7 linked regions of the Homo sapiens genome follow. The protein of the gene in region 3 purifies or fractionates together with the protein of the main gene of each other region. This does not show direct contact. Each region holds a gene or a part of one and is shown on either strand. Other genes may lie near its edges.

The links.
Region 1: the proteins of TMEM63B (region 3) and SARAF purify together in Homo sapiens (affinity purification with mass spectrometry; one large-scale study listed by BioGRID and IntAct). This does not show direct contact.
Region 2: the proteins of TMEM63B (region 3) and SLC38A5 purify together in Homo sapiens (affinity purification with mass spectrometry; one large-scale study listed by BioGRID and IntAct). This does not show direct contact.
Region 4: the proteins of TMEM63B (region 3) and ATP2B1 purify together in Homo sapiens (affinity purification with mass spectrometry; one large-scale study listed by BioGRID and IntAct). This does not show direct contact.
Region 5: the proteins of TMEM63B (region 3) and TBC1D15 purify together in Homo sapiens (co-immunoprecipitation; one large-scale study listed by IntAct). This does not show direct contact.
Region 6: the proteins of TMEM63B (region 3) and SLC35E1 purify together in Homo sapiens (affinity purification with mass spectrometry; one large-scale study listed by BioGRID and IntAct). This does not show direct contact.
Region 7: the proteins of TMEM63B (region 3) and TMPO purify together in Homo sapiens (affinity purification with mass spectrometry; one large-scale study listed by BioGRID and IntAct). This does not show direct contact.

What each region holds. Positions count from the first base shown.
Region 1 is NC_000008.11:30,080,024-30,084,715, reverse strand, and holds the start of SARAF (store-operated calcium entry-associated regulatory factor isoform 1 precursor), read left to right. Parts: upstream 1-1,651; 5' UTR 1,652-1,766; coding exon 1,767-1,869; intron 1,870-4,692. UniProt on the Homo sapiens protein: Negative regulator of store-operated Ca(2+) entry (SOCE) involved in protecting cells from Ca(2+) overfilling.
Region 2 is NC_000023.11:48,459,884-48,463,986, reverse strand, and holds part of SLC38A5 (sodium-coupled neutral amino acid transporter 5), read left to right. Parts: intron 1-1,006; coding exon 1,007-1,089; intron 1,090-1,695; coding exon 1,696-1,754; intron 1,755-1,842; coding exon 1,843-1,980; intron 1,981-2,189; coding exon 2,190-2,269; intron 2,270-2,900; coding exon 2,901-3,001; intron 3,002-3,222; coding exon 3,223-3,338; intron 3,339-4,103. UniProt on the Homo sapiens protein: Symporter that cotransports neutral amino acids and sodium ions, coupled to an H(+) antiporter activity. Releases L-glutamine and glycine from astroglial cells and may participate in the glutamate/GABA-L-glutamine cycle and the NMDA receptors activation.
Region 3 is NC_000006.12:44,130,241-44,134,343, forward strand, and holds part of TMEM63B (mechanosensitive cation channel TMEM63B), read left to right. Parts: intron 1-1,976; exon of another isoform or gene 1,977-2,046; coding exon of another isoform or gene 2,047-2,049; intron 2,050-4,103. UniProt on the Homo sapiens protein: Mechanosensitive cation channel with low conductance and high activation threshold. Osmosensitive cation channel preferentially activated by hypotonic stress.
Region 4 is NC_000012.12:89,618,123-89,622,225, reverse strand, and holds part of ATP2B1 (plasma membrane calcium-transporting ATPase 1), read left to right. Parts: intron 1-434; coding exon 435-677; intron 678-1,985; coding exon 1,986-2,227; intron 2,228-4,103. UniProt on the Homo sapiens protein: Catalyzes the hydrolysis of ATP coupled with the transport of calcium from the cytoplasm to the extracellular space thereby maintaining intracellular calcium homeostasis.
Region 5 is NC_000012.12:71,912,313-71,916,415, reverse strand, and holds part of TBC1D15 (TBC1 domain family member 15), read right to left. Parts: intron 3,337-4,103; exon of another isoform or gene 3,284-3,336; intron 2,591-3,283; coding exon 2,490-2,590; intron 1-2,489. UniProt on the Homo sapiens protein: Acts as a GTPase activating protein for RAB7A. Does not act on RAB4, RAB5 or RAB6.
Region 6 is NC_000019.10:16,565,506-16,569,608, forward strand, and holds part of SLC35E1 (solute carrier family 35 member E1), read right to left. Parts: intron 2,665-4,103; coding exon 2,527-2,664; intron 1,153-2,526; coding exon 1,027-1,152; intron 1-1,026. UniProt on the Homo sapiens protein: Putative transporter.
Region 7 is NC_000012.12:98,518,590-98,522,692, forward strand, and holds part of TMPO (thymopoietin), read left to right. Parts: intron 1-4,103. UniProt on the Homo sapiens protein: May help direct the assembly of the nuclear lamina and thereby help maintain the structural organization of the nuclear envelope. Possible receptor for attachment of lamin filaments to the inner nuclear membrane.

The sequences.
Region 1 (4,692 bases), on a different chromosome or scaffold from region 3:
AAATTTTGTTTTATTCACTGCTGTATCCCCAATACTGATAACAGTGCCTGGCAGGTACTGTTAGGTACTAATAGGTGCTCAATATAATAATCTGGTAAACATAAAGTGTTTTTTTGAGTTCTGTGAGCCATTCTAGCAAATTATGGAACTCAAGATGGGGGGTTATGAAAACCCCAATTTATTTGTTGAGAGGGAGTCTCTCTCCATGGTCCAGGTGCAGTGGGGCAGTCTTGACTCACTGCAACTTTCGCCTCCCAGGTTCAAGCGATTCTCTTGCCTCAGCCTCCCAAATAGCTGGGATTACAGGTGTGCACCACCACGCCCAGCTATTTTTCCTATTTTTAGTAGAGGTGGGGTTTTGCCATGCTGGCCAGGCTGGTCTTAAAGTCCTGACCTCAGGCGATTCACCTGCCTTGGCCTTCCAAAATGCTGGGATTACAGGCATGAGCCACCACGCCCGGCCTGGAAACCCTAATTTATAGCTGGTTGGTCAGAAGCATAGGTCACAACCTGAGACTTGTGATTGATGTCTGAAGTTGGGGCCATCTTGTGGGACTGAACTCTTTATAGGATCTGACCAAATAACTCTTCCTCGAAACACAAAGTTAGGGCTTTTGCATCCACTGTTCCCCAGATGGGAAGATGAGTCCCCTGATCTTTGTACGGCTAGTTCTTTCTCATCATTCAGGTCCCAAGCTTCAAAAACCACTTCCTCAGCAAGGCCCTCCCTGAAGTTGTGTCCCCAGGCTCCATTATATCACCCTGTTTTTCATCAATGTTATTACCTATCATTACCTATTATTTTTGTTGTTTAATTGGTATGTCGTTTGTCCTATTCTATTTCAATGAGTACAGGGATCTTGTCTGTACCATCCATGCCTAAAACAGTGCCTGGTGCGTATTAGGTATTCAACATATATTCATTGAATGAATGAATGAATGAATGAATGAATGAATGAATGAAAGAAACCCAAGCCTGCTAGACCTCAAAAGCCCAGAGAACTGTTTTCTCTGGCTGGTTCTTCATTCAGACGATATTTTCTCCTCTTGACATTTTATAGTCTTCCGGCCTCCATGCGCAAGGAACCATGTAAAGGTTCTGAGCCTTGAAACCAGACAATGTATTTCCCTGTTACTTTTCGCTTGAATCTTCTCTGTATTTAGCAACCAGTCATAGAACACTAACCATGTACCAAGCGCTATGCTAAGTGCTGAACACATAGAGCTGAATAAAGCACAGAACTACCCTTGGTACAATTATTGAGGTTTTAATAATACATAATTTGACTACATTTCTTAGATTTCGCGTCGTGACGTTTTCAGCCTCTCAAACTGCATCGCCTACGCACAGAAGCTTCCCGAATCTCAGACGAGACACAACAAAGCTGCGCGCTGCCCTCGCCCCGCCCGCGGGCGCGGCGGCGACAGGCCCTCGGCCCCGCCCACACCGCGGCGCCACGCCTCCAACCCGCCTCCAGCCGTGCCTCCCCAGGCCCTTGGCCCCGCCCACACCGCCTCGCCCCGCCCCAAGCCGCGCTGTGCTCCAGGGGCGGGGGCCCACGGCGGCCACTCACTGAGCCCCACGGGCCGCAGCGGCAGTGACGTAGGGTTGGCGCACGGATCCGTTGCGGCTGCAGCTCTGCAGTCGGGCCGTTCCTTCGCCGCCGCCAGGGGTAGCGGTGTAGCTGCGCAGCGTCGCGCGCGCTACCGCACCCAGGTTCGGCCCGTAGGCGTCTGGCAGCCCGGCGCCATCTTCATCGAGCGCCATGGCCGCAGCCTGCGGGCCGGGAGCGGCCGGGTACTGCTTGCTCCTCGGCTTGCATTTGTTTCTGCTGACCGCGGGCCCTGCCCTGGGCTGGAACGACCCTGGTGAGTGCTGCCAGGGCCCTCAGGCGCTTCGTTCGCCCTTTTCCGCCGCCGTCAGCCGGTGCAGGCTCCCCTGCGTTTCCGTGCGCCGTCTTCCCGGAGCCTGGGTGCCCGGATTCCCCATGTCTGACCTCTTTGCTGTTCGTGCTCTCCCTGGTTCCACTGCTCTTCCCAGGCGTCTTGGGAGGCGGGTAGGGACTGCTCGAGTGGGCGGGGCGGGACGGCTGGAGATCCTTAAGGTCCCCTTTCTCCCTGCCCCGGACTCCCGGAATTTGCCCATTGTCGTCTTTCTCATCTCTGAGTATAACTGGAGAGCTGGACACTCACCTGCGCATCTGCTTTGTTGTTATGGCTGTGTGATGTCATCGTGGCCTGCTGTTGTCATGGCTGCCTGTTGCTATCGCCGGCCGTTGCCTGCCACTGGCAGTCTCTGAGTCACCCTTAGCGGACAGGGCTGCAGACCTCGCAGGTCTGTTAGCAGAATCGCAGATTGCACTCTTTTTTTTTTTTTTGAGTCGGAGTCTCACATTGTCGCCCCGGCCGCACTGCAATGACGTGATCTCGGCTCACTGCAACCTCCGCCTCCTGGGTTCAAGAGATTCTCCTGCCTCGGCCTCACCGGTAGCTGAGATTACGGGTGCCCACCACCATGCCTGGCTATTTTTTTGTATTTTTAGTAGAGACGGGGTTTTACTATGTTGGCCAGGCTGGTCTCGACCTCCTGACCTCGTGATCCACCCGCCTTCATCCTCCCAAAGTGCTGGGATTACAGGCGTGAGCCACCGCGTCTTTATGAGAACCGCTGCCTCTTATCTGACGATTGCAGTGATGTACATCGCGCGGCACCAGCTCTTCCCATTGGCTTTCACCGTAGAGAAGAATTTAAAAAATAATTTTCTCGGTTTTTTTTAGTGATGGTACATGATAAGTGGGTTTTAGGAAAGAGGTTCTTTTATGTCAGTACAGTATTAAAATTGTCTAAAGAATTTTCATGGGATCAGTAATATTCCGTGCAATTAATACGTATATGTCTATATACTTAGATACAGATTTTGACTTTTTCCATGTAATAAATGACGCATGCTGTTACTTTGGAATTCTGTAAAAAAAAAAAAAAATGAAAACAACATCATTTTTGCTTTGCGAAGTAAAGATGGCATGGAAAGCATATTGCCTTTGTGATTTGGTGATTGGAAATGCCTGCATTGTCGAATTTAAGCAACAGGTTTATTTCTATAATAGCCTATTCTTACATGCTGAAATGAGAGAGAAGGTGCTATTTGCAAGCACATCACGTTGAGTAGTCATTTGATGTGGACATTTTATTACCAAAAATAAAAAGCCAAGTTGTATTTAAATGTCTGTACGTTTTTCTTTTGTATTTCTAGAAAGCTGTGTATGAGTGGGAGACTTGATCAGAATTACAAGTGAAAACCTAGAATGAAACTTTAATTTGTTGAACTTTGAATCAGTTCGTAAATAAATTTAATAAAGGAAGTTTACAGTTGAAGAGCCAGAAGAACTATAAAAACTATGAAAGAAGAACCAAATTTAAATTAAAGATGAACCACTTCCTGGTTTATCTACGCTGTAAAACTATTGTTCTGGAACACAAAGCACCACAATATTTTGCAGAGTAAACTCAATTGTTTTATGTAAATTCTACTTCAAAGTTTACTTTGAGGAACTTTTTTGTTTTGTTTTGTTTTTTTGAGACAGTTTCACTCTTGTCGCCCAGGCTAGAGTGCAATGGCGCGATCTTGGCTCACCGCAACCTCTGCCTCCTGGGTTCAAGCGATTTTCCTGCCTCAGCCTCCCGAGTAGCTGGGATTACAGGCATGTGCCACCATGCCCGGCAAATTTTGTATTTTTAGTAGAGACAGGGTTTCTCCATGTTGGTCAGGCTGGTCTTGAACTCCCAACCTCAGGTGATCCGCCCGCCTTGGCCTCCCAAAGTGCTGGGATTACAGGCGTGAGCCACCGCACCCGGCACTTTGAGGAACTTTTTAAATGAAGATACTTTATTGACATACTATTTATTAAGTCCTTTACTAAAGCATTAATCGGCTCCCTAATTTATCTTTTGTTTGACTTGGATGCCATTACTTTAGCTCACATTGAGCAGTAATTTGTCTGGAAAAAAAAATTAGCACCATTCTAAAGAGATTACCAATGAATTTTCAAAATTCCTTATTGAATGTAATCTTATATTAAGTTACTCTTCCGGGTGTTGGGAATATAGCAGTGAACAAAACAGTGTCTTGCCTCCAAGGACTTTACCTCTATTGGGGAGAAATAGACAATAAACAGATAAACATGTAAATAACATGCTATATTGTGAAAATTGGTATGCACCGTGTATGATAAACAGCGTAAGGAGGACATGGTGTGCGGGCAGAAGTGGAGACTTAAAAAACGTACATTGGTCAGGGAAGTCACTGTTAGGGTGACATTTGACTGGAAACCTGAAGTGGGGAGGAGGAGTAAATGACCTGAAATTACTTATATCTTTAAAGGCTCATTTGGGCTGCTCTGTGGAAAACAGACCGAAGAGGGTAGGAGGGAAGCAGGGAAACCAGTGAATTAATATATATTGCTATCTATTTTAATATTGTACAGTAAGTTCTTAGAGTGGTGACCGCTTGGCCCAGGGCAGGAGCAGTAGAGAGCTGGTTAGAGTAGCTGGATTCTCTTGTCACCTGTTTGGAAGGTGGAGCTAACATGATCTTCTGAAGGATCAGATGTAGGAGTGAGAGGAGAGAAGATGAGAAGTCCAAGGTTTTTGGCTTGAGCAACTAGAAGCATGGAGTTAACCATTTCCTGAGA
Region 2 (4,103 bases), on a different chromosome or scaffold from region 3:
CATACCACGATCGTGACTCACTCTCTTTGTGTCTGGCACCTTGTGTTGCACTGATTTTCTCCTTTCTTTCTTTCTCTTTCTTTCTTTCTTTCTTTCTTTCTTTCTTTCTTTCTTTCTTTCTTTCTTTCTTTCTCTCTCTTTCTTTCTTCCTTTCTCTTTCTTTCCTCCCTTCCTTCTTTTTTTTCTTTCTTTCTTCCTTTTTTTTTTTTTTTTTGAGTGTCTTGATCTGTCACCCAGGCTGGAGTGCAATGGCGCGATCTTGGCTCACTGCAACCTCTGCCTCCTGGGTTCAAGTGATTCTCCTGCCTCAGCCTCGCGAGTAGCTGGGATTACAGGCACGCGCCACCATACCTGGCTATTTATTTATTTATTTATTTTTTTGAGACAGAGTCTCCCTTTGTCGCCCAGGCTGGAGTGCAGTGGCGTGATCTCGGCTCACTGCAAGCTCCACCTCCCGGGTTCATGCCATTCTCCTGCCTTAGCCTCCTGAGTAGCTGGGACTACAGGCACTCCCCACCACGCCTGGCTAATTTGTTTTGTATTTTTAGTAGAGACAGGGTTTCACCATGTTGGCCAGGCTGGTCTCAAACTCCTGACCTTAGGTGATCCACCCGCCTCAGCCTCCCAAAGTGCTGGGATTACAGGCGTGAGCCACCACACCTGGCCTGGACTGATTTTTACATTGAGTCTGACTGATTTGGGGTGTTTGACCTTCTGGTTGTGCAACCACTTGCGAAGTCTGATGGCAAGTTTTGTCCAGCTGTGTATGTGTTAGCTGTGTCCCACTGATAGTATCTGACAATCTCATAATCAGCTTGACTGTTTTTGTCAACCCTATTGTGCCGTTTGTCACTGTGACCACCTGAATGACTTCTCAAGCTGAGGTTGTCAGCTTAACTCTCCTGACTTAGGGCAGAAAGCTGCCTGTCCAGCTGTCTTCTGTGAGTGTCTGCCTGACAGTTTCCTTTGGCTGGCAGCTAGGCACTGTGTCTTCCTGTCTCTCTAGGGACTGGTTCTTGAAGGGAAACCTCCTCATCATCATCGTCAGTGTGTTAATCATCCTGCCCCTCGCCCTCATGAAACACTTGGGTAAGAGGCTCCCTGGGTTGGCCATTGGGTAGTGGGATTAGACAGAAGAAGCCAGACTGAGAAAACCCCCATTCATTTTCAAGGGCTGCAGCACACTAGGAGAGAGCTTATTTGATGTGGGCTTGAACAGATTAGTAGGAGTTTGCTATGGAGGGGAGGTTTTTCTGGGTGGAAGTAGAAGCTTATGCAAAGGTAACTGGGGTGGGTAGACCTTGAAGGCTAGACTAGGTGTTTGGAGTTCACTGTTCCGGGGGTCCATTGATTTTTTTGTTTTGTTTTGTTTTTTTGAGACCGAGTCTCACTCTGTCACCCAGGCTGGAGTGGTGCAATGGCGTGGTCTTGGCTCACTGCAACCTCTGCCTCCCGGTTCAAGCGATTCTCCTGCCTCAGCCTCCCGAGTAGCTGGGATTACAGGTGTATGCGCCACCACACCCAGCTAATTTTTGTATTTTTAGTAGAGATGGGGCTTTGCCATGTTGGCCAGGCTGGTCTCGAACTCCTGACCTCAGGTGATCCACCCGCTTAGGCCTCCCAAAGCGCTAGGATTATAGGTGTGAGCCACCACGCCTGGCTGATTTCTGAGACTCTGTGTTTTGCCCCTCTTAGGCTACCTGGGGTACACCAGTGGTCTCTCTCTGACCTGCATGCTGTTTTTCCTTGTTTCGGTGAGTCACAGAGAAGCGGGGAGAGAGTTTGGGACATTGGGACATAGCTTCCTCCATGACCTGGCTTCCCTGCTGCCCCCATCCTCAGGTCATCTACAAGAAGTTCCAACTTGGCTGTGCTATAGGCCACAATGAAACAGCAATGGAGAGTGAAGCTCTCGTGGGACTCCCCAGCCAAGGACTCAACAGCAGCTGTGAGGCCCAGATGTTCACAGTTGACTCACAGGTGTGTGTGCAGGCATGTAGGAGATTGCATCACACTCAGGCCCTCTGGTTCTGTCATATGGTGCATCCTGCTCAGAGTGGAGCTGGATATTCGACATTGGGAGCTTCTATGTGTCTGATATGGAGGGCGATTACGGGGCGGGAGGGGGATGGGAAGAAGGGGATGGACCCCTGTTGGCTCTAATCCCATGTACTCGGGCATTCCCCTAGATGTCCTACACAGTGCCCATTATGGCTTTTGCTTTTGTCTGCCACCCTGAGGTGCTGCCCATCTATACGGAGCTCTGCCGGTGAGTGGGCAGGCAAGTGGGCCTGAATGATGGGCCAGCAAGTGGGGTGGTAACCAGAATGTCTGACACTCCCTACAGCAGTCCTGGGACTGTCACTTGGTGGAAGCTAGGTTGTGTCATGGGAGGGGTTTGGGGTGGCCAGGAGGTCTTGGGGCACTCAGGGTAGTGACTGTTTGCTGATTGGGGCTTAAGTATTCTCCTATTTTAATATCCAGCACAAATGTGGATGGACAGAGTTGGGAAGCAGAGATCAGATGATCAGATGGAGGGGGTGATATGCATGGCTGGTGATATGGGGATAGGGAGGTACGGACAGACAGAGGCGGAGGCAGGGATGATATGATGGGAGATGTGTGGATGATCAGACAGAGGGACAGCATGGATGGTCAGATGGAAGAGGCAGTGGCAGTCAAACGCAGGGGAGAGGGAGACAGTCATATCGGGGGAGATATGGATGGTCAGAGAGGGGATTTTGGCTAGTCACAGGGGAGGCAGAGACGGGTGTCCCCATGTGTGCCAGCTGAATGGCAGTCTGGGAGAAGGGGACTCTGGAGGGTGGAGGCTGGCTTTGAGGGACCTGGGGCAAGTCTCAGGGTCTGGGCATGACAGTTCCACGACCTCTACACCTCAGGCCCTCCAAGCGCAGGATGCAGGCCGTGGCCAACGTGTCCATTGGGGCCATGTTCTGCATGTATGGGCTCACAGCAACCTTTGGATACCTCACCTTCTACAGTGAGTGGGGCTGGGGCTAGGGCTGGGGGGAGGGGGAAGGCCTGGGGCAGGAGCCTCTGAGCTCTTTCCTTCTGTGACCACGGACCTGTCAGTTTCCAAACAGAAGGTGTGCCTCACTTGTGTGGATTTTGTCACTGTGCATGTATGTATGGGTTTCTGGGGCATTGGTCCTGGTGCTCTCTCCACATCCTGCATCCCGTACCCTCTGTCTCATGGCCCAGGCAGTGTGAAGGCGGAGATGCTGCACATGTACAGCCAGAAGGACCCGCTCATCCTCTGTGTGCGCCTGGCCGTGCTGCTCGCGGTGACCCTCACTGTGCCAGTCGTGCTGTTCCCTGTGCGTGGGGCCCACGGCTGAGAGGGACATGGATGGATGGGTAGAGGGCATAGGCATGGATGTGTGGGTCAAGGCTGGAAACAGGAGTGGATGGATGGATGAAGGAGGCAAGGATGGACAGACAGGAAAGGGCAGCGTTTTCAGATGGACAGAGATGGCAAAAATCGATAAACAGAAGTGGGGAGGACATAGATAGCAGGAGAGAGAGGGTCAGGGGACAGGGTAGTCAGTTGGAGGGAGGAGGCACAGATGGATGGCTAGAAAGAAGAGGGAGGCAGGAAGGGTCAGTTGGAGGGTAGAATTAAGAAACAGGGATGGACAGAAAAAGGGTGGAGGCTGAAGTGATGGGATGTAGGAGGGTCAAGTCTCCCAGATGGGGAGGCAGAACTAATTAGACAGAGGAGGGAGGTAGAGGTCAGATGGAGAGAGGCAGGGAGCTCACACAGGGTGGAAGGATCGGTGGATGGTCAGACAGAAGGAGAAGGCAAAGATGGTCAGCTAGAGGAGGAGGCAAGGATTTCAGACAGTGGGTGCAGGTGCCGATGGGTGTTCAGACAGAAGGAAGAGACGTGGATTGTCAGAGGATGGAGGCAGGAAGCCTGTTCAGAACATAGAGACACAGATGTTGGGTTAGGCAGGGTGGAGCCATAGATAGTCAGAGGGAGGGGAAATCAGGGATCTCAGCCAGAGGGTGGAGCTAAAGACAGATGATCACGTGGAAGGGGGGCAGCACTTGGGTCCTGACTTCTGTCCCACCCTACTCTG
Region 3 (4,103 bases):
TCTACCACAGACTGGCTGTGTGACCTTGAGCAGCTCATATACTCTCTCTGTATCTCAGTGTCCTCCTGGGGTTGTGATGGGGAGCAAATGAGTTACATTTGTAAAGTGCTTAGAACAGTGCTTGGCACAAAAGAAGAGTTAAATAAACATTTAATACTATTATTTTACTACTTTTTTTTCTTTTTCTGTTTTTCTTTTTTCTTTCCTTTTTTTTTTTAGACACGGTCTCTGTCTGTCGCCCAGGATGGAGTGCAGTGGCATGATCTTGGTTCACTGCAGCCTGGAACTCCCTGGGCTCAGGTGATCTTCGCACCTCAGCTTCCGGAGTAGCTGGGACTACAGACATGCACCAGCATGCCCAGCTAAATTTTGGTGGTGGGGGGTATCTTTTGTAGAGACGGGGTTTTGCTATGTTGCCCAAGCTGGTCTCGAACTCCTGGGCTGACGTGATTCTCCCACCACAGCCTCCCAAAGTGCTGGGATTACAGGTGTGAGCCACCATGCCTGGCTTTTTTTTTTTTTTCCCCTCGAGACAAGGTTTTGCTCTCTTGCCCAGGCTGGAGTGCAGTGGCATGATCATGGCTGACTGCAGCCTCCAACTCCTAGGCTCAAGGTATCTTCCCCACTTGGCCTTCAAAAGTGCTGAGATTACAGGGGTGAGCCACCCCACCCTGCCTACTACTACTTTTTTTTTTGAGATGGAGTCTCACTCTGTCGCCCAGGCTGGAGTGCAGTGGCATGATCTAAGGTCACTGCAACCTCTGCCTCCTGGGTTCAAGTGATTCTCCTGCCTCAGCCTCCCGAGTAGCTGGGACTACAGACGCATGCCACCACACCCAGCTAATTTTTGTATTTTTTTAGTAGAGACGGGGTTTCACTGTGTTGGCCAGGCTGGTCTCGAACTCCTGACCCTGTGATCTGCCCAGCTCGGCCTCCCAAAATGCTGGGATTACAGGTGTGAGCCACCGTGCCTGGCACCTACTACTACTTTTATGCTCACTTGTGGATATATTCTTGCCTTTCTCTCTGAAGTGGGTAGGGGTAGAGTAAGGATATTTGTATCTCTTTGTTACAGATTGGAAGACTGAGACTCAGGTTTCGTAGTAACAGAGCTCGCTTCCATCTTCCCCTCCTCCCCTCAGACCACATGGCCTTGCTTTGATCCAAAGCCCTAACTTAAATCTTGCCCAGTAACTCCACTGAAAAAGCTTATATCACTCCTGTAATCCCAGCACTTTGGGAGGCCGAGGTGGGCAGATCATGAGGTCAAGAGATCGAGACCATCCTGGCCAACATGGTGAAACCCTGTCTCTACTGAAAATACAAAAATTAGCTGGGCGTGGTGGCATGTGTCTGTAGTCCCAGCTACTCAGGAGGCTGAGGCAGGAGAATCCCTTGAACCCAGGAGGCAGAGGTTGCAGTGAGCCAAGATCGCGCCACTGCACTCCACTCTGGTGACAGAGCGAGACTCCGTCTCAAAAAAATACACAACAACCCCCCCAAAAAAAAGCTTATAAGTTATAGCTCTCCAACCCCCACCATGCACACACTCCTTAATGGTAAAATTAAAAAGTTAGCTAGAAGTAAAATGCTCCATCACTCTCTGGACACACCTCAACCAAAACCTCAATATCAGACTAGAGAAACTGGGATATAGCTGGTGCAGGCACCTCGTGGAGTGGAAGAACTGCCACCTCCCATCCCCAAGGTATTCTGCCTCAATGTCTTCCCTCTTCTCAGTTGCTCAGCCCAGTGCTGGCTTTGAGAGCAGCTGCCCTTGATGAAACTCAACCCAGCAACCCCACCCCCACAATTAAAAGCTTGGAGCAGCCCTGTCAACTGGCAGAGCTGCCAGCCCAGGCTCCACCCCTTACCTGTCCTGTCACTGTGCAAGTTGCTTCCCCTACTGGGTTCCTGCTTCCTCCCTGTAAAATGGGGATAGTGATCTGAGTGTGCCCTGCCTTCCTCCCATGCAGGTGGGAAGATTAATGCTGTTGTGGAGGGGAGAGTACTTTGTGACCCCAAGGAGGCGGACAGCAGAGGAGCATGGTGATTTCAGTTACTAACCATCTAGCTAGATCCTGTCCACCCTGCTGGGGCCACTTCATGTAGAAGCTTCCAAAATGCTCTACCTTTCTTTGGTGTGGAGAAGACAGGAGTTGATAGGAATGGTACTCTGGGGCTTGTTCTCATTTCATTCTGATCTGATGGAGCCTTGGAATTCAGAGAGAGAAACAGGCAAGGGGTGGGAATAGAGTGTTGAGATTGCTGGAGTACATTGGAGTTGAGAATTGAGAAAGGGGGACTAGTTAGAGTCCCCCCAACCCAAGATACCTATACCTACCTTTAACCTCCCATAGTGCCCCAGGGTTCTGTGCATCTTATGTTTACATACCCGGGCTCCCAGACACACCCATGTTCACACCCCCACTTCGAAGCCAACAACTCCCTTCATTTCCGTGGACTGCCATGCAGTCACCTAGCTCCTCCTGGACACAGGTCCACACATCAACACACATTTACATACCTGGACACACACATTTCCACAGCACCCACAGGTTCTCTGGCCTGAGAACATTTAATGAGCATTTATAAAGCTTCCATGGTCTGCCGAGTCCTGTTCTAGGAACATCAGAAAAGCACCGTGGTGCCCTGAAAATCATTCTAGCTTTAGAAAGAAGGTGAGCTAGGTTTGAGTCCTAGGTCCCTCATTTTATTAGCAGTGTGACCTTGGGAAAGTTACTTAACCTCTGAGGCCCTGTGCCCCCACCCTAAAATGTCAGTGACACTCAATTCAGGATCGTCGAGGATTAAATGAAATCATGTAATATATTATTCTTGAAACTGAGGGCACTGGACAAATGGTACCCAATACAATTACTAAATTAGTGTGTTTTTAAAGGCAGCTTGGACTGGAAAAGGAAGAGGCATAACACACCAGCACACACTCCTTTAGTCTTCCTAATCCAGGCTTTGCAGAGACTCCCTGGGACCAAGTGAAACACATAAACAACTCCATCCTCCCCTCCATCTGAGGGCTTCTGCCTCTTGCCCTGTGGTTGAAGTGTTAGGAAGAGGCAGGAGAAACCCTCTGAGTCCCCCTGGGGGCTAAGGGATGCTGCTCCCGAAGTTGCAGTCACTGTTTCTAGTTTTGTTGTTCTCTTTGGTTTTCCTTTTTCTTCCCTGAGGACCTCCTCCCCTGCTCCACAGCCCGCCCCCGAGGCAGAGCTTCAGTGTTGTCAGCAGAAGGGTCCCCCAGGGACCCCCCAGTAAAATGGGTGGGGCAGTGCTGCATCTGTTGAGGCCACACTTCTCCGCTATCCTGGGATCCTCCCCAGGGCCCCACTCTGCTCTGTCCCCAAGCACTTTGAGAACCCAGGCACTCAGGCTGGCTGTCCCTTTTCTCCTCCTGCCCACCCCATCCACTCTGAGCATCAATGCAGCCGGCCAGTTGCAGGCAACCAGGCAGCACCCTGGCTGCCCAGGCAGGCTAAGAGGCCCCCACCCACTCCCCCCTCCTTTGCCAGTGGAAAAGCTTGCCGTAGGGCATAGCTTTCCCAGCCTTCCCTGCTTCAGAGGCAGGAGCATGGCACTCTGGGAGTTGTAGTGCTCATAACACTCAGGCGATCCCTGTGCAAATAACTGGAGAGAGGACTATGGTATGGGGAAGAGAAATGAGAATAAGCAGGAGTGGCTGGGGCCAGGCAGGTAACTCAAACCCAGAAGTCCTACTATTTACTTGACTTCCTACTCTGACCCATCGTCGAACCTAAGCCAGTTATATTGAGTTCAAAACTCTAACCAAATGAAATCATGCCATTTTTTCTAATAGGCATAGAAAGAAAAGATCAGGATGAGGCAGCTGGCTCCTGACCCATTCTCCCCTGACGTGGAGACCCCTCATCTTACCCTTGAGTCCTCAGGCCTAAGACCCCTCCCTGTCTTCCCAGGCTCAGCTCCGCCCCCTGCCCTAAGACAGAGAGAATGAGAGTGTGGGGGTGGCGGCGGCAGGGGGGATTTAGATAGATGTTAGAAAATCACAGATACCTTCCAGCTTAATGAAACCAGCCTCCCCAGTCCAGGCCTGGCATCTAGACTGAGTT
Region 4 (4,103 bases), on a different chromosome or scaffold from region 3:
ATCTTTTGTTTTCCACTTAATAAGGAGGCTTAATCCTTTAATATACTCTTACACTACTATAAGTACCACTGTACTTAACAGTACAGATTGTCATTGCTCTTGCAATGTGAGGACATTTTGCAAAAACCGTTGGAGACATATATTCAGTATTATTTGTGTACGGATGTAGGTACCTGAATTGATTCACTAGGTTATGTTATGCAGCAATAAAATGATTGAAACCCCAGAAAGCTCTGGTACTGTGTTTAGCTTATTTTAATAGGTCAAATATGCTAAAAAAAAAAAAATTTCAGTATTACATTGGTACTTTATACATTGTATTTATAGAAAGCTGGGAGTTTTCTAATTTTAAAACAATTTATAATCATTTTAATGTAATGAGGTGATTGGTTTTATATGCAGCTTAACTAGTTTTTTTTTTTTGGTCACTGTAGAAAATGATGAAAGATAATAACTTAGTAAGGCATCTGGATGCTTGTGAAACCATGGGAAATGCTACAGCTATTTGTTCAGATAAAACAGGAACTTTGACAATGAACAGAATGACAGTCGTTCAAGCTTACATAAATGAAAAACATTATAAAAAGGTTCCTGAACCAGAAGCTATTCCACCAAATATTTTGTCCTATCTTGTAACAGGAATTTCTGTGAATTGTGCTTATACATCAAAAATATTGGTAAGGTTTTTGAAATAATTTATGAAAATTAATTTTTAAATCTATAATGATCAGACTATATGTAAGTCTTCAGACCACCATTACTGTATGTAAACTGAACTGTTAAGTTTTTAAAAGGCATATATTTATTTATATAATGGTTTTTAAATTTGTGTTATGAGTGAGGTCTGCTGATCAACATAAACATTGTTTGCTTACATTTTTCTCCTATATTTTGAATTTCCTGTGTTCAGAAACTCTCCAGCCTTATAACCAGAGCATGTATTTAATTTTAAATTCTTGTTAAGCTCATTTTTGAGAAAGATCAAACTGTCTTACTATAGGAGGTCAGCTCTCAACTTACAGAAAATTTTTAAGCCGATTTCAACTTAAAATAACATGTTTTATATATGGTTGCCATGTGTTCTGTTTGGTTTCTCAGTAGTTCCTACCTAAAAGGTGGTCCTTAGACCTTTTTAGAACTAATGCAGTAAAGTAATTCTAGACTTGTGCCACCATATAATAAAAAATTTTCAACTTACAAGTTTTAAAAATCTTATTTATAACAGAAAGAATGCGATGTTATGTTTGACTTAATCTCTTCTAGTGATTTATGGATGAAAATCATTAACAAAAATAATATTGCAAGCTGTTCATTAGGGAAAACATACATGAATTGGATGATTACATTGGAAAGTTATGGGATCTTGGTTCTAGATCTAGCTTTGCCTTTTACTAGCTGAAAGTCTGAGCTACCTTCTTTAATTACTGAGTAAAGATGATCACATCTGCCCTTAATACCATTGTGATAATTATGTAAAGTGGTATTTCTGAAGGCACTATGAAGGAATTGAAGCTTCTCACTGCATTTAAGAGAACAGTATTTTAATGAATGTACTTTTAAGCCATAAAAATTGGTAGATTTAATTTTGAATGATTTAGTATAAAAGTTAAGTGAAAACAGGAAAAGGAAATTAAAATTAAGTTCCACTCTGTATTAGGAACCAACTATAAACTTCATACATCTTATATCACTTAATTTTGGGGTCATAAGTGCTCCTATTTTACAGATGCTGAAGCCAAGGACCAAAGCAGTTGGGTAATTGTCAAATTTCACGTAGCTAGTAACTGGCAGGACTGAGATTAGAATCCATGTCATTCTCACCCCAGGCTCCTTTCTACCTTACTTTTCTATATCCTTCTTTAAAATGTTGATATTAGACAATTGCTTTGTAATTTTATTTTAGAATATCGCAGTCTGTTTTACATTATAAATTAAACGTTCTTAGAGAAACGAGATACTAGCTACTAAATGTTTTTCTCTTATAGCCACCAGAGAAAGAGGGTGGATTACCTCGTCACGTTGGTAATAAAACTGAATGTGCCTTGTTGGGACTTCTTTTGGATTTAAAACGGGATTATCAGGATGTTAGAAATGAAATACCAGAAGAAGCACTGTACAAAGTCTACACCTTCAATTCTGTTAGGAAGTCCATGAGTACTGTCCTGAAAAATTCAGATGGAAGTTATCGAATATTCAGCAAGGGTGCATCTGAGATAATTCTGAAAAAGTAAGAGTAAAATGCTTGGATGAATAAATTGCTGACTATAGTTGCTTTATGGAGTATCTACTGTGTTGTTATTGTTGTTGTCTTTTTGTGAACATCAGGCATTTGATAGGACCTCAGAGTTTTTTAGCATATTTTATGGTATCCAGATATTTGCCCCTGCTATTCTGCCATTTTCACACTCTAGCTTCTCTTATTTCTTAGCATTTTGTTATAGGGAAAATAAGCTCATTACATTCAATCTGGTATGTTTAATGAAGTATACTTTGATGTTTATTTTTAGAAGTCGATTTACTTGTTATTTAATATGCAGAATCTTGAAAAGCCTCCTGGGAAGAAAATCAAGTTTATGTCTTTCTTTCTTTCTTTTTTTTTTTTTTTTTATTTGTTTAAGGTGGAGTTTCCCTGTATCACCCAGGCTGGAGTGCAGTGGCGCGATCTCAGCTCACTTCACCCTCCGCCCCTGGGTTCAAGGGATTCTCCTGCCTCAGCCTCCCAAGTAACTGGGATTACAGGCACCTGCCACCACGCCTGGCTAATTTTTGTATTTTTAGTAGAGTCAGGGTTTCACCATGTTGGCCAGGCTGGTCTTGAACTCCTGACCTCAAGTAATCTGCCTGTGTCGGCCTCCCAAAGTGCTGGGATTACAGACGTGAGTCACTGCACCTGGCCTCAAGTTTAGATCTTCAACGCTCATTGTGGTTACTGGACTCTGAATGTGATAAGAGAATTATGAAGTAATTTTTAGAATAGCAAAGCATAAAAGCTGGATCTTGGAAATTCCCCATTTATATCAAAATGAGATTTATCATGTTTATGCTGCTGCAGTGTCGTATTTAAATATCTCCTGTCATTTTGAATACTAATTTTTCTTACTGTCCTTTTACAGATCAGTAGCTTTAATTTTGTTATTACATGTTCACATATAATTTCCCTGATGTTTATTTGTTATTAAAGGTGGTGAAATTATTTTAGTTTCTTTAATTTCATTAAAGAAGTAGAGAACTGGTTAAAAAAAAATACTGGTTAAGAGCAAGTTGGGAAAATTGGAACTCATTTGAAATTATAATATTTAAAATATTAAAGTAAATGTTTAAGATATACTTTTAATTTGCTTACATGTGGATTATAAGCCAGTATTAATGAACACTTTACAATTAGTTTAAGAGACAAATATATAAATAAATAACTGAAGGCAGCATATAATAAATTGGTACAAAGTTTTTGGGTGAGAGATCACACTGTAGGGATGTGGCATTTAAGATAGATTTTGGTATGAAATGAGAACTTCGAGGTGGGGAAACCACAGCAGAGGAAAGGAGATGAGAATATGCAGGTCATACTGGGGAGGGGAATATCTGGTTGTATAGTTCAGCTGAATAGTGATGGGCTTTTGTGGCACACAGGCCATATACAGCTTTCTTCTTGCCACAGTACACTCAGTTACCTGATTTCATTGAAAAGGTTAGAAATCTGTTTCAACCCTGGCTTGCTGGGTAGTAGATAGATGGTTTAGGAGAGAATTTTTTTTAGTCAAAACTGATCAGGCATTGACTCTTTCTCTGCAACTAACTAGCTTCTGGATATGGGGCAGATTTTTCCCTTACTTCCATTTTTCTCATCTGAGAAAGCGGGTGATGACCACCAACTCTGTGGCACTTAAATGAAGTAATGCATACCAACTGTCTAGTGTGAAGCCTGGTGGACAGTAAACATACAGCAAGTGTTCCCACAGTAATATTTGCATTTTGTTGTGGAGACTTTTTAAATGTTGGGCTGAGCAGTTAAAATTGAAGTAAGCCAGATAATGCAAATGAGGTATTTTTTTCTTCAAGTAGTAGAATCATCAAAGCTGTGATTAAAGATAATTCTTGCATCA
Region 5 (4,103 bases), on a different chromosome or scaffold from region 3:
GGGCAGAATCAACTCTGATTAACAGGATCATTTTTGCTGTGACACAGTCAAAGACTAGAGCTGATCTGGGAATACCAACATGGCATAGACATTTGCTACCCACTCTGCTGTAAAAAAGAAACATGTCCATAATGACAGACACCATATTCGAAAAAGTGGTTACTCCTGGAGAAGGGAGAGTGGGATCAACAATGGATATACAAAGGGCTTCAAATGTGTCTGTAAATAAATGTGTCTGTATGGGGCAGGGGAGGGGGAGATGGAGAGGAGAAAGGAATTAAAACTATATGGCAAAATGGATGATGGGTATAACAAAGTTCATCAGATCACTTGTACTTTGTATTTCCATGATAATAGACAAAGTCTATGCCTAGACCTACATTAGATGCAAGTAAACATCAACAAAAGTAAATTTACAGACGTTAGGTTCAGCCACCACAAAGGTAGTACAAACTTACATGAAGTAAAGCTATAAAACAGAAACACAGAATCAAGAAACAGCAGCACAGATTTAGGGACATCAAACAAGGGCAATGCAGTGAAAAACAATCATACAGGTTATTTTGATTGCCATATATTTCCCTCTCATTCAAATATTATGAAAGAAAAGATGTTAGCAGACAACATAATCATAAGATATCTTTTTTAGAATAAAGACTAGAAAAATCCCCAGAACATCCTTAATGGAAAAGGCAAACACAGAGAGCATTTACTGTGAAAATGACAGAACAAAGAAACTGAACCTTCATACACAAAAAATGACGGACTGTAAAGTGTTTATTACACATGTTCAGAAGGTAGTCTTTACATATGAGACCTATATACACACGTCTGTATGCATGTGTGTATGTGGCATTATATGTCAATATATATTTACATGCCAATATTGGATTAGTTTTATTGAAAACTTATTGCATGATACTAAATGCAGTATGTTCATCTTAGTTGTGTTTTTTTTTTTTTTTTTAGAATATCTACTATAGCAATTTAAACTAATCACTGGGGAAAGATTCACATGTTTATTCTACAAAAACCCGTTGAACAACCTCATGTCAGGCATTAGGAAAATTCTGGTATGCTACCAGTGAAACAAGATATAATCCCTTTTATCAAGGAACATACTAGCTCTGGTGAAAAGAGGATAAACAACAAAAACACAAGGAAGGCAGACAACAGTTTTTATGTAATTAGTATCAGCTGTACAGACCTTTATAACAAATGCCTCAGGTTTCTAGAGCACTTGGGAGTAAATGGAACTAAGAAGGTAGACAAATCAATCAAAAAAGGAAGGAAGACAAACTATGACATTACCAAATTACTGCATTGATAATCCTTCCAAATAGTCAAAAAAAATTAATTTATGGCAAAAAACCAATTTGAATATTCATGAATTTAATGTAAAAGAACATTTTAAATCTATCAAATCTTACCAAGTATACATTTAGAAAAAAACTGAAAGAAGCAAAAACAAGTTGAATCTATGGACAAGAGATTTGGGGAAATAGCCACAAGCAGGGAAAATTTGAAGGAGAAAGAAAAATAGGCAAGCAAAAGGGAAAGAATAGAAGTAAAGAAAAAAGGAGAAGGGTACCACTTCCAAATTTCACATTTGTATCCCAGAAACTCTGAGTTAAACCCTGTATTACAGGAAAATATTTCAGATGGTTAGATTCAAAATGTTTATCCCTTGCAAGCAAGCCAGCCATTTCAATATCCAACATAAAGGCCCAGCATCCAGTATGTTAGTGTTATTTTGAAAAAACACAGCAACCTCTATGTAGTCAGGTCTTTGGACTTCATCTGCCTTTATCTAGTCTCACCCCTTCTGCTTTTATTTTTCTGAGATTGCTTGAAGAGACTTTTCTTTTATTTTCCTGTCAATATTCTCTGCACTATTATCCTAGAACTCTGTCTCAAAGATTTAACAATGATAATAGATAAAATGTTCTTTGTACTAACATGTATATATAGACAGTTCAATTCTAATAATCACATACTTCTGGGAAAATAACAATGAATTCCTAAGAAAGTGTCAGAGTTACAAATAGTTCAAACACATCTGGAGAAAAATCAGTTACTATAATGACAAAATTCAAAATCTTCACAAAAGGTAAGGATATTACTTGGCATGACTAAGCTTTATCTCTGAAACAGATGATATTAAAGTTCAACTATTCCACAAAATTGAATTCATCTATTTTATCAATATTCTGTAATGACACATGGCTCTTTAGTAGAAAATAAGCATTTACTGATATTAAATCCTGATTATTCCTATACTACAGGCACAAACTATTTCCTGTATTAAAAATACCACCAGTATTTCTAAGCCCTTGAAAGGCTACTAAAAAGAAAAAGTAACAAAAGGCATGAGGTAATTTTTTTAAGTTCCATCATAGTTGGCTAAATATAAAAATCAACCTTATACTATAAAATTATACAACTAAAATTTTAAAAATCAGTTTAATGGAAGGAATCTCTGTTCTTACCATTTGGTCCATGTAAGAGGCAAAGCACCAAAAGGCATCCACTTCATTTTCCATCACATATAAAAGAGGGGAAAGTAAATCACTCATTCCTTGAACATATCCTAAAAAGAAAAGAAAAAATCATCTCTGAAAACCCAAGTTTTATGTAACCTTCTGCAAGTTGTGCATATCACCACCATTTCGCTTAAAATTGTATCTTTCTCCTTTGCATTTAGAAATTGGTAGACACTGATGTTCACCAAGAAAAGAATATAAATGAAGAGGAGGAACTCTAGTCATAAGTAAGAAAGATGAGTTGTTTTAGATTGAGATGTCAAACAATATATAGCTTCCAGTACGTGTCTCAGTGCAGATACACTATCAAGAGTGGGTAATATTTTTAAAAATAATGTGCAAGAGCATCATGAGAAAGAAGAGGGGTGAAGAGATAATCCAGAGGAACATCAAATGTAAGAGTATACACTCAAAGACAGGTTTAAGAAAGACCAGTCAGAGAAGTAAAGAAAAAAATCAAGCGAGAATAATGTTGCAAAAATTAACAAGAAAGTTGCAAGCCCAGAGTGGTTAGCAATGCCAAACTACCATGAGTAAGCCACATAAAACAAGAACTTTGGGTTCAACTGCTTTAACAATCAGACCTTTAGATTCACATAACAGGAGTTACAAAATTAAGAGCCTCTTTTAAATAGTCATATCTACGTCCTTCTTTCTTTTTTTGTTACTCTCTACACCCAACCAATGCCAGCAACTGGGCTTAACCCAATCAATATTTTGTACCTAAAGTGACCACTTACCTACATGTCTCTTGATATTATTACAATTTCTCAATGGTGACAGTAATAGAGCCCTTGATTAAAAGAAAAACTAGAAAATTAAGGAGTCAGATCCCTCACTTAAAAATAAGAAAAAGTGTTAGTTTTACTTTTTCACCTGAACATGTCAAACTTCTTTTTTACTTCCTCTTATAAAACCCTCAATTATCCTTGTTTTACAATTTTCAAGACTTGAAAAATTTTCAGACTTAAGAGGTTCTTGAACCAATGAAGGGACACGAACTTATACTAAGCCTTTTTACTTAAACGTTATCATTCAACTTCGGTAACTTTTGTGTATTTATTAAAATCATGTAGAAATTTCTTTATTGGTAGCTTGGGAAGTCTGGAAAATAGTCTTTCATTTGCGAATCCAAAGTTTACATTTTTATTCACCAAAATCTATCTGCACTGAAGCCATGTAAAAGTAAATATTTAATGAAAGAGGGAGGAGATAGTTCTGCTATCATATAAATGATACATAATTACACATTACTCTGTTTTGGAGGAAAACTTTAAAAAATGATCTCAGAAAGCAGGTAAACTAAATCTCTTGAGAAAACTCAGATCAAACACACAACAGACAGAAGCACTCAGATCACCTCAGAATCTCCTTACAAATAAAGTTTCAGCTCAATTTGCTGTGAGCCTCTGTCCAATCATCTTACCACCACATCTTTCCACAGTCCTGTTAACCTCACTCTGTCTACACTGCACCCTGTGGGAAAATATAGCTCTACTCAATTTAGCATAAAAGGGCACGTGGGTTCTCATGGAGGACATCCAATTATTACAGTACCAG
Region 6 (4,103 bases), on a different chromosome or scaffold from region 3:
AGGCAGCGCATGTTTTTTTCTTTTTTTTTTGACACGGAGTCTCCCTCTGTCACCCAGGCTGGAGTGCAGTGGCACCATCTCGGCTCACTGCAACCGCCACATCCTGGGTTCAAGCAATTCTTCTGCCTCAGCCTCCCAAGTAGCTGGGACTACAGGTGCGAGCCACCATGCCTGGCTAATTTTTGTATTTTTGGGAGAAACAGGGTGTCACCATATTGGCCAGGCTGGTCTCAAACTCCTGACCTCGTGATCCGCCCGCCTTGGCCTCCCAGAGTGCTGGGATTACAGGCGTGAGCCACTGCGCCCGGCTTTTTTTTTTTTTTTTTTTTTTTTTGGCCAGTGCATAGTTTTCAAAGTTCCAGGGCTGGCAAGGCACAGTGGCTCACATCTGTAATCCCAGCACTTTGGGAGGCCAAGGCAGATCTCTTAACGCCAGGAGTTCAGGACCAGCCTGGGCAACATAGTGAGACCCTGTCTCTCCAAAAACAGTAAAAAAACAAAAATCAAACAAAAAAAAATTAGCCAGGCATGGTGGTATTCGCCTGCAGTCCCAGTTACTCGGGAGGCTGTGGGAGGATCGCTTGAGCCCCGGATTGAGGTCAAGGCTGCAGTGAGCCATGATTGTGCCACTGCACTCCAGCCCTGGCAACAGAGCGAGGTTCTGTCTCTAAAAAATAAACATTTAAAATAAAAAATGAGTAAAAATAAAAAGTCAATGTGCTATCTGGACTATACTGTCAGGAGGTGAAAGAGTCACCTTCTCTTCCTTGACGCTACTGGCGCACACACAGCAGCTATCAGCACCTGGGATCAAGCACACCAGAGAAGGAAATACACAGGAAACCCACTTCCTCGATGGCGTGCATCGTCACCGTGAGGCATTACAGAGGACTGACTGCTGAAAGCGCTGGCTGTCAGGTGCCCAAAAGATACCACAATGTTAACATGCAGCTACAGCTCCTCAACAAAGCACCTATTCTGGAACTAGCCAAGAAAATGGCGTGTTCTTGGTGCTGTACAACTCACCAAGTCGCTGCTGACCAGGAAAGCCGAGAGGTCCACCAGAACCCAGGTGGGGATCATAAAGAAGACGGCGTGGCAGCCCAGGATGTTGAGCAGCCGGAGATGGTGGATCCGTGAATCTCGCAAGACCTGGAAAGGGAAAGCCTCTTTAGAGGGTGATTAAAACTATATGTGGCAAAAAGGGCTCCAGTGACTCAGGCCCCAAACACAGTGACTGGACATTAACCCTGACATCTGAGCTTGGACACCAAACCTGCAAGTGCATTTGTGAGGACATACACAGCACAGGCCTGAAACAAGCACCATGCTCCACGCATAAACGACTGAGAAAAGAAAACAAAAATAAAACAGTAACACTCAGTGCTGGTGAGGATGAAGTGAAGTAGGCACTCTGAAATTCCACTGGTTTGAGGCTGAATTGGTATAACCTTTCTAAAATACGACCAGACAAACCATATTAAGAGTGATTAACGTTTCATACCCTCTAACCTGAGAACTGTAAGCCTATCATAATGAAATAACTGAGACAGGAAAACATCACACACGTGATTGTTTCTACATTACAATGAAAAGTTGGAAATAAGTGGTATTTCCAATAGAGAGACTGCATTAACTGTGGTACCTGAAAAGTGTGTGATTATCACAGGAGTTAAGAGCAATTTTTTTTTTTGAGACGGGGTCTCACTCTATTCCTATTGCCTAGGCTGGTCTCGAACTCCTAGCCTCAAGTGATCCTCCTGCCTTGGCCTCCCAAAGTGCTGGGATTATAGATGTGAGCCACTGCACTAGGCTTCAACAAGTTTTAAAATCTTGTTTTAAATTGAAGTTTTTAGCTAGGCCTGGTGGCTAATGCCTGTAATCCCAGTGCTTTATGAGGCTGAGGTGTGAGGATCACTTGAGCTTCGAAGACTGAGGCTGCAGTAAGCTATGATTGTGCCACTGCACTCCAGCCTGGGCGACAGTGAGCCTTGGTCTCAATAAAAGAGCTTTTCTTTATTTTTTTCTTATTGAGCACATTAACTTTATAATAGAAAAACTTTTTTTTGTTTTTGAGATGGAGACTCACTCTTGCCCAGGTTGGAGTGCAGTGATGCAAAATCTCAGCTCACTGCAAGCCCCGCTTCCTGGGTTCAAGCAATTCTTGTGCCTCAGTGTCTGGAGTAGCTGGGATTACAGATGCGTGCCTGGCTAATTTTTATGTTTTTAGTAGAGATGGGGTTTTGCCATATTGGTCAGGCTGGTGTTGAACTCCTGGCCTCAAGTGAACCGCCCGCCTTGGCCTCCCAAAGTGCTGGGATTATAGGCATGAGCCACTGCGCCCGGCCAGAAAAACAAACTATTTAAAAAGCAAAATGACAAACAGAAAATCAGCAGAATGGCAATCAAGATTTTTCTGCTCTAATAGCAAAGAAATTTCTACTCCGCCTGTTTTCCCAATGCCACCAGTTTGCTGCCCGCACACCCCTGAAACCCCATGCATGTCCGCTGATGGTGACCAAATACCTTTTTGGAGAAAATGTTCTGAAGCGAGAAGCACAGCGTGGCGGCGAGGGCGCTGACGAGTCCCCACATGTCAAAAGACAACTCGGTGACGGTGGCCAGCAGGACACCGCTGATGATGGGGATGAGTGACAAGTATACCTGCAGGAAGAGGTCATCAAGAAGGGCTCACAGGCCAGACTAGAGCTGGGCCACATGCCACAGATGCCCAGGGAAGAGCCCCTCTCCTCCCTCAGCAAAGGGATACCACCTAACACTTTGAAAGTGGTGTTTGCTGTGCCAGTGACGCTCTGGTGGGTGGCTGGGGGCAGGTGGTTATCAGAGCGCCAGGGGCAGGGCTTATTTGTGGGTAGCCCCATCCCCATACCGTCACCCCCATTAAGAGCCTCTGCTCAGGGCCACAGCCCGGGGCTGGTCCTAACTCCACAGATCTGTTCAGCTGCCACTGACGCACCAGGGTTTGAAGCCCTGATCCTCTATAAGGCTCCCCCATTCCCTCTTTTTAAAAAATAGTTTTTTTGAGACAAAGTCTCGCTCTGTCGCCCAGGCTGGAGTGTAGTGGCACAATCGTGGCTCACTGCAACCTCTGCTTCCCGGGTTCAAGCGATTCTCCTGCCTCAGACTCCCCAGTAGCTGGGATTACAGGGATGTGCCACCACGCCCGGCCAATTTTTTTGTACTTTTAGTAGAGACAGGATTTCGCCATGTTAGCCAGGCTAGTCTTGAACGCCTGATCCACGTCATCCATCCACCTTGGCCTCCCAAAGTACTGGGATTACAGGTGTGAGCCACTGTGCCCAGCCCCCATTCCCTCTTACTTCAGGCTCTTCCAGTATGGTTACTCCTGGCTGGCACACTCCACTGATGCCTTCTCCTCCCAGTGACCTCCTGCCTCCACAAGGAGTGCTTTCTCCAACCCACCTCCACCTTGGGAGGCTCCTGTGCTGTGCTCCCAGGGCCACTGCCTGGACTTCCCCAGCAGAGAGCTCTCCACTCACTCTTTTTTTTTTTTTTTGAGACGGAGTCTCGCTCTGTCACCAGGATGGAATGCAGTGGCATGATCTCGGCTCACTGCAACCTCTGCCTCCCAGGTTCAACCGATTCTTCTGCCTCAGCTTTCTGAGTAGCTGGGACTACAGGTGCCTACCACCACGCCCAACTAATTTTTGTATTTTTAGTAAAGATGGGGTTTTGCCATGTTGGCCAGGATGGTCTCGATCTCTTGACCTCGTGATCTGCCCACCTTGGCCTCCCAAAGTGCTGGGATTACAAGCGTGGGCCACCGTGCCCAGCCTCTCCACCCACTCTGTCTGTTACATCATCCGGTCCCGTTAGTGTACCTTAGAGCAGGTCCTTGTTCACTGCTTTATCCTGGTGCCTAGCACTCAGTAGGCACTCAATAGCTGCTAGCTGAATGAACGAGTAGCAAACATAGTGACAGAGAGCCTTCTAGAAGGTCTGGCATGCAGGGCTAAACAACTCCCAACTTCCAGGATCCACCAGGATCCATTCCCGCGTGTCCAGCTCTTCTGACTCTCGGCTCAATCCTGTCCTACAAAGAACACTCTTCACTTTGGGAG
Region 7 (4,103 bases), on a different chromosome or scaffold from region 3:
TTTCTTTTACACAGAAACAACCATCTCAGTTTTAATGTTTTCCTATCAGCCACTTGGTAAAAGAGAGTTTATGTCCCCATCTACCTTGTGTTCTTTTGGGGGGTAAGAAGACCTAAATGTAAAAATTTTTTAATTAAGATTATCCAGCAATTTTGAGTTCCTACCAAGTGTTCTTAACTACTGGGTTTAAAACTTTGGGGATTTAAAAATGAATTGTGTTTATTTACTTGTCTGTCCAACTCATATGTTAATTGAAGTTGGTTAGCATCATGTAAATAAGTTTTGAGTAAAATGAAGGGTTTTTTTTTTTTGAGACGAGTCTTGCTCTGTCGCCCAGTCTGGGGTGCGGTGGCGCGATCTTGGCTCACTGCAAGCTCTGCCTCGTGGGTTCATGCCATTTTCCTGCCTCCGCCTCCCGAGTAGCTGGGACTACAGGCGCCCGCCACCACCCCCCAGCTAATTTTTTGTATTTTTAGTAGAGATGGGGTTTCACCGTGTTAGCCAGGATGGCCTCGATCTCCTGACCTCGTGATCCTCCCGTCTCGGCTTCTCAAAGTGCTGGGATTACAGGCGTGAGCCACCGCGCCCAGCCAAAATGAAGTAATTTTTGTTGTTGTTATTTTGTTTTGTTTGTTTTGTTCTGAGACGGAGTCTCCATTGCCCAGGTTGGAGTGCAATGGCCCGATTTCATCTCTGCCTCCTGGGTTCAAATGATTCTCCTGCCTCGACCTCCCGAGTAGCTGGGATTACAGGCGTATACTACTATACCCGGCTAATTTTTGTATTTTTAGTAGAGAAGGGGTTTCGCCATGTTGGCCAGGCTGGTCTGGAACACCTGACCTCAGGTGATCTGTCCCCCTGGGCTTTCCAAAGTGCTGGGAATGCAAGGATGAGCGACGGCACCCAGCCCAGAAGTCATGTTTTTTAGAGTACCTAGTAGGTCTATTGGCATGGTAATTAAGCTCTTTACGTTTCATTTAATTATTTCATCCATATAAAGAAAACTTACTTCATAATTACAGGTTTAAATGTCTTCTACCTGGAGTATTTAAAACTCAAGAGGTGTTTACCCTTGACTGAGCTTAATAGCCATGCCAACAACTTGAAGAAAAATATTGGTAGTCAGCGTCATTTTCTGTTTTAAAGTACGTTAAGTACAAGTGAGTTATAATTAGGAGTCTGTTCGATGTTTTTATCAGCCATAGGAAAAAATAATTTTAAGTTTACAGGAAAAGAAATTTATAATAATTTATGTGTAAAATTATTCATGTCAATTCCTCTTATATGTACTATATTTTACGTTTTGGTCATTTTTAGCCCCATATAAAAATAATACCAGGTCATATTTCTTTTTTTTTCTTTCTTTCTTTTTTTCTTTTTCTTTTTTTGAGATGGAGTCTTGCTCTGTCACGCAGCCTAGAGTGCAGTGGCGTGATGTCAGCTCACTGCAACCTCTGCCTCCCGGGTTCAAGCGATTCTCCTGCCTCAGCCTCCCAAGTAGCTGGGATTACAGGTGCCCACCACTGCGCCCGGCTAATTTTTGTATTTTTAGTGGAGACGGGGTTTCACCATCTTGGCCAGGCTGGTCTCAAACTCCTGACCTCAGTTGATCCACCCGCCTGAGCCTCCCAAAGTGCTGGGATTACAGGCATGAGCCACCGCGCCCGGCCAACCATATTTTTCCCTTCCTTCCTTCCTTCCTTCCTTCCTTCCTTCCTTCTGTGTGTGTGAGAGATGGAGTCTCACTCTGTCACCCAGGCTGGAGTGCAGTGGCATGATCTCGGCTCACTGCAACCTCTGCCTCCCAAATTCAAGCAATTCTCCTACCTCAGCCTCCTGAGTAGCTGGTATTACTTACAGGCACACACCACTACTCCTGGTTAATTTTTGTATTTTTAGTAGAGACAAGGTTTCACCATGTTGGTCAGGCTGGTCTCGAACTCCTGACCTCGTGATCCACCTGCCTCGGCCTCCCAAAGTGCTGGAATTACAGGAGTGAGCCACCTCACCCGGCCAATACCAGGTCTTATTTCTTTTTTCCTTTTTTTTTTTGAAACGGAGTCTCAGTCTGTCATCCCAGCTGGAGTGCAGTGGTGCAATCTCGGCTCCCTGCAAGCTCTGCCTAGCTGAGACTACAGGTGCCCGCCACCACGCCTGGCTAATTTTATGTATTTTTAGTAAAGACTGTTAGCCAGGATGGTCTCTATCTCCTGATCTGGTGATCTGCCCGCCTCGGCCTCCCAGAGTTCTGGAATTACAGGCATGAGCCACCGCTCCCGGCCTCCAGGTCATATTTCTTAAAGAATATTTATAATCTTCTGCATAATGGAGTGGTAAAAAGGAATAAAAGAATATTTATTTATATTATAGGAGAAAGCCAAATTATGTTTGAGAGTTGCAGATAAGGGAGATTTTTAACATTTTAAGACAAATCAAGCATTAATGTGGATTTGGCCAAGATTAACTATTTGCATGCATATACCTTCTATTTAATCATGGGTTTATGAGGAATTTTTTTTTTTTTTTTTTTTTTTTTGAGACGGAGTGTCGCTCTGTCACCCAGGCTGGACTGCAGTGGCGTGATCTCCACTCACTGCAAGCTCTGCCTCCTGGGTTCACGCCATTCTCCTGCCTCAGCCTCCCGATTAGCTGGGGCTACGTGGTGGCACCTGCCACCACCCCCGGCTAATTTTTTTGTATTTTTAGTAGAGACGGAGTTTCACTGTGTTAGCCAGGATGGTCTGGATCTCCTGATCTTCTGATCCTCCCGCCTCAGCCTCCCAGAGTGCTGGGATTACAGACGTGAGCCACCGTGCCCAGCCTATGGGGAACATTTTTAATTAAATAAGAAATTGTTTCATTTCAGCTTCTACCATAGTCTCTTGGATTCACTTGGTATAATGTGACAAAACTTTGCATGTTAAAAGTTTTGTTTTTATTTTGTTTTCTTATTTCTAAGCTTTTTATTTTATGTATCTTGCTACCAATATTTTTAGGTGTTGAAACTACCTAGATTGTGGACACAAAAATAAACATTTACAGAGTTGGCAGTCTGCCTTTTTGTTTTAAGAGGCAGAGCCTGAAGGTGTAGCTATTTGGATCTAGTGGAGCATAATATTCTTGAATGATCTGTTCTGGTGAATTATGAGTGTGTGTTTGAGAAGGAGTCTTGCGCTGTCATCCAGGCTGGAGTGCAGTGGCGCGATCTCGGCTCACTGCAACCTCCACCTCCCGGGTTCAAGTGATTCTCCTGCCTCAGCCTCCTGAGGAGCTGGGATTACAAGCGTGCACCACCATGCCCAGCTAATTTTTTTATTTTTAGTAGAGACAGTTTCACCATGTTGGTCAGGCCGGTCTCAAACTCCTTCCTGACTTTGTGATCTGCCCCCCTTAGCCTCCTAAAGTACTGGGATTACAGGCGTGAGCCACCACGCCTGTCTGTGTGTTTGTTTGTTTTTTTAAGAGATAGGGTCTCGCTCTGTCCCTCAGACTGTAGTGCAGTGGTATGATCATAGCTCACTGCAGCCTCAAACTCCTGGGCTCAAGCCTCTGGAATAGCTGGGACTACAGGTGTGTGCCACCATGCCTAGCTGATTTTTAAAATTTTTATAGAGATAGTCTCACTATGTTGACCAGGCTGGTCTTGAATTCCTGGCCTCAAGGGATCCTCCTGCTTAGGCCTCCCAAAGCGTTGGGATTGTAGGTGTGAGCTGCTGCTCCTGGCCAAATTATGAATTCTCAATAGGAAATATTTGAAGACCTGGAAAAGAACATAAAAGCATGCTACCAATAGGAAATGTTAATTAAATCACAAATTTACCACCACTGTATAATAAGGTGTTAAGTTTACAGACTTGTGAATAATAGAGTTATAGATTCAAATTCCAGGTCTGCCACTTATTCATATGACACTGAACAGTGTCTTAATCTAAGATCCTCTATTTTCACCTGAAATAGAGGAATAACCTAATAGCTACTTAATCAGATTGAGGAGTACATGCCATTGCATATGTGAAGTGTCTAGTGCTTAGTAATTAATAGCCATTAAATGATTTCTGAATTTTTGTCTTTAATGTCAGGGCAATATAGTGCAATGTTACTAA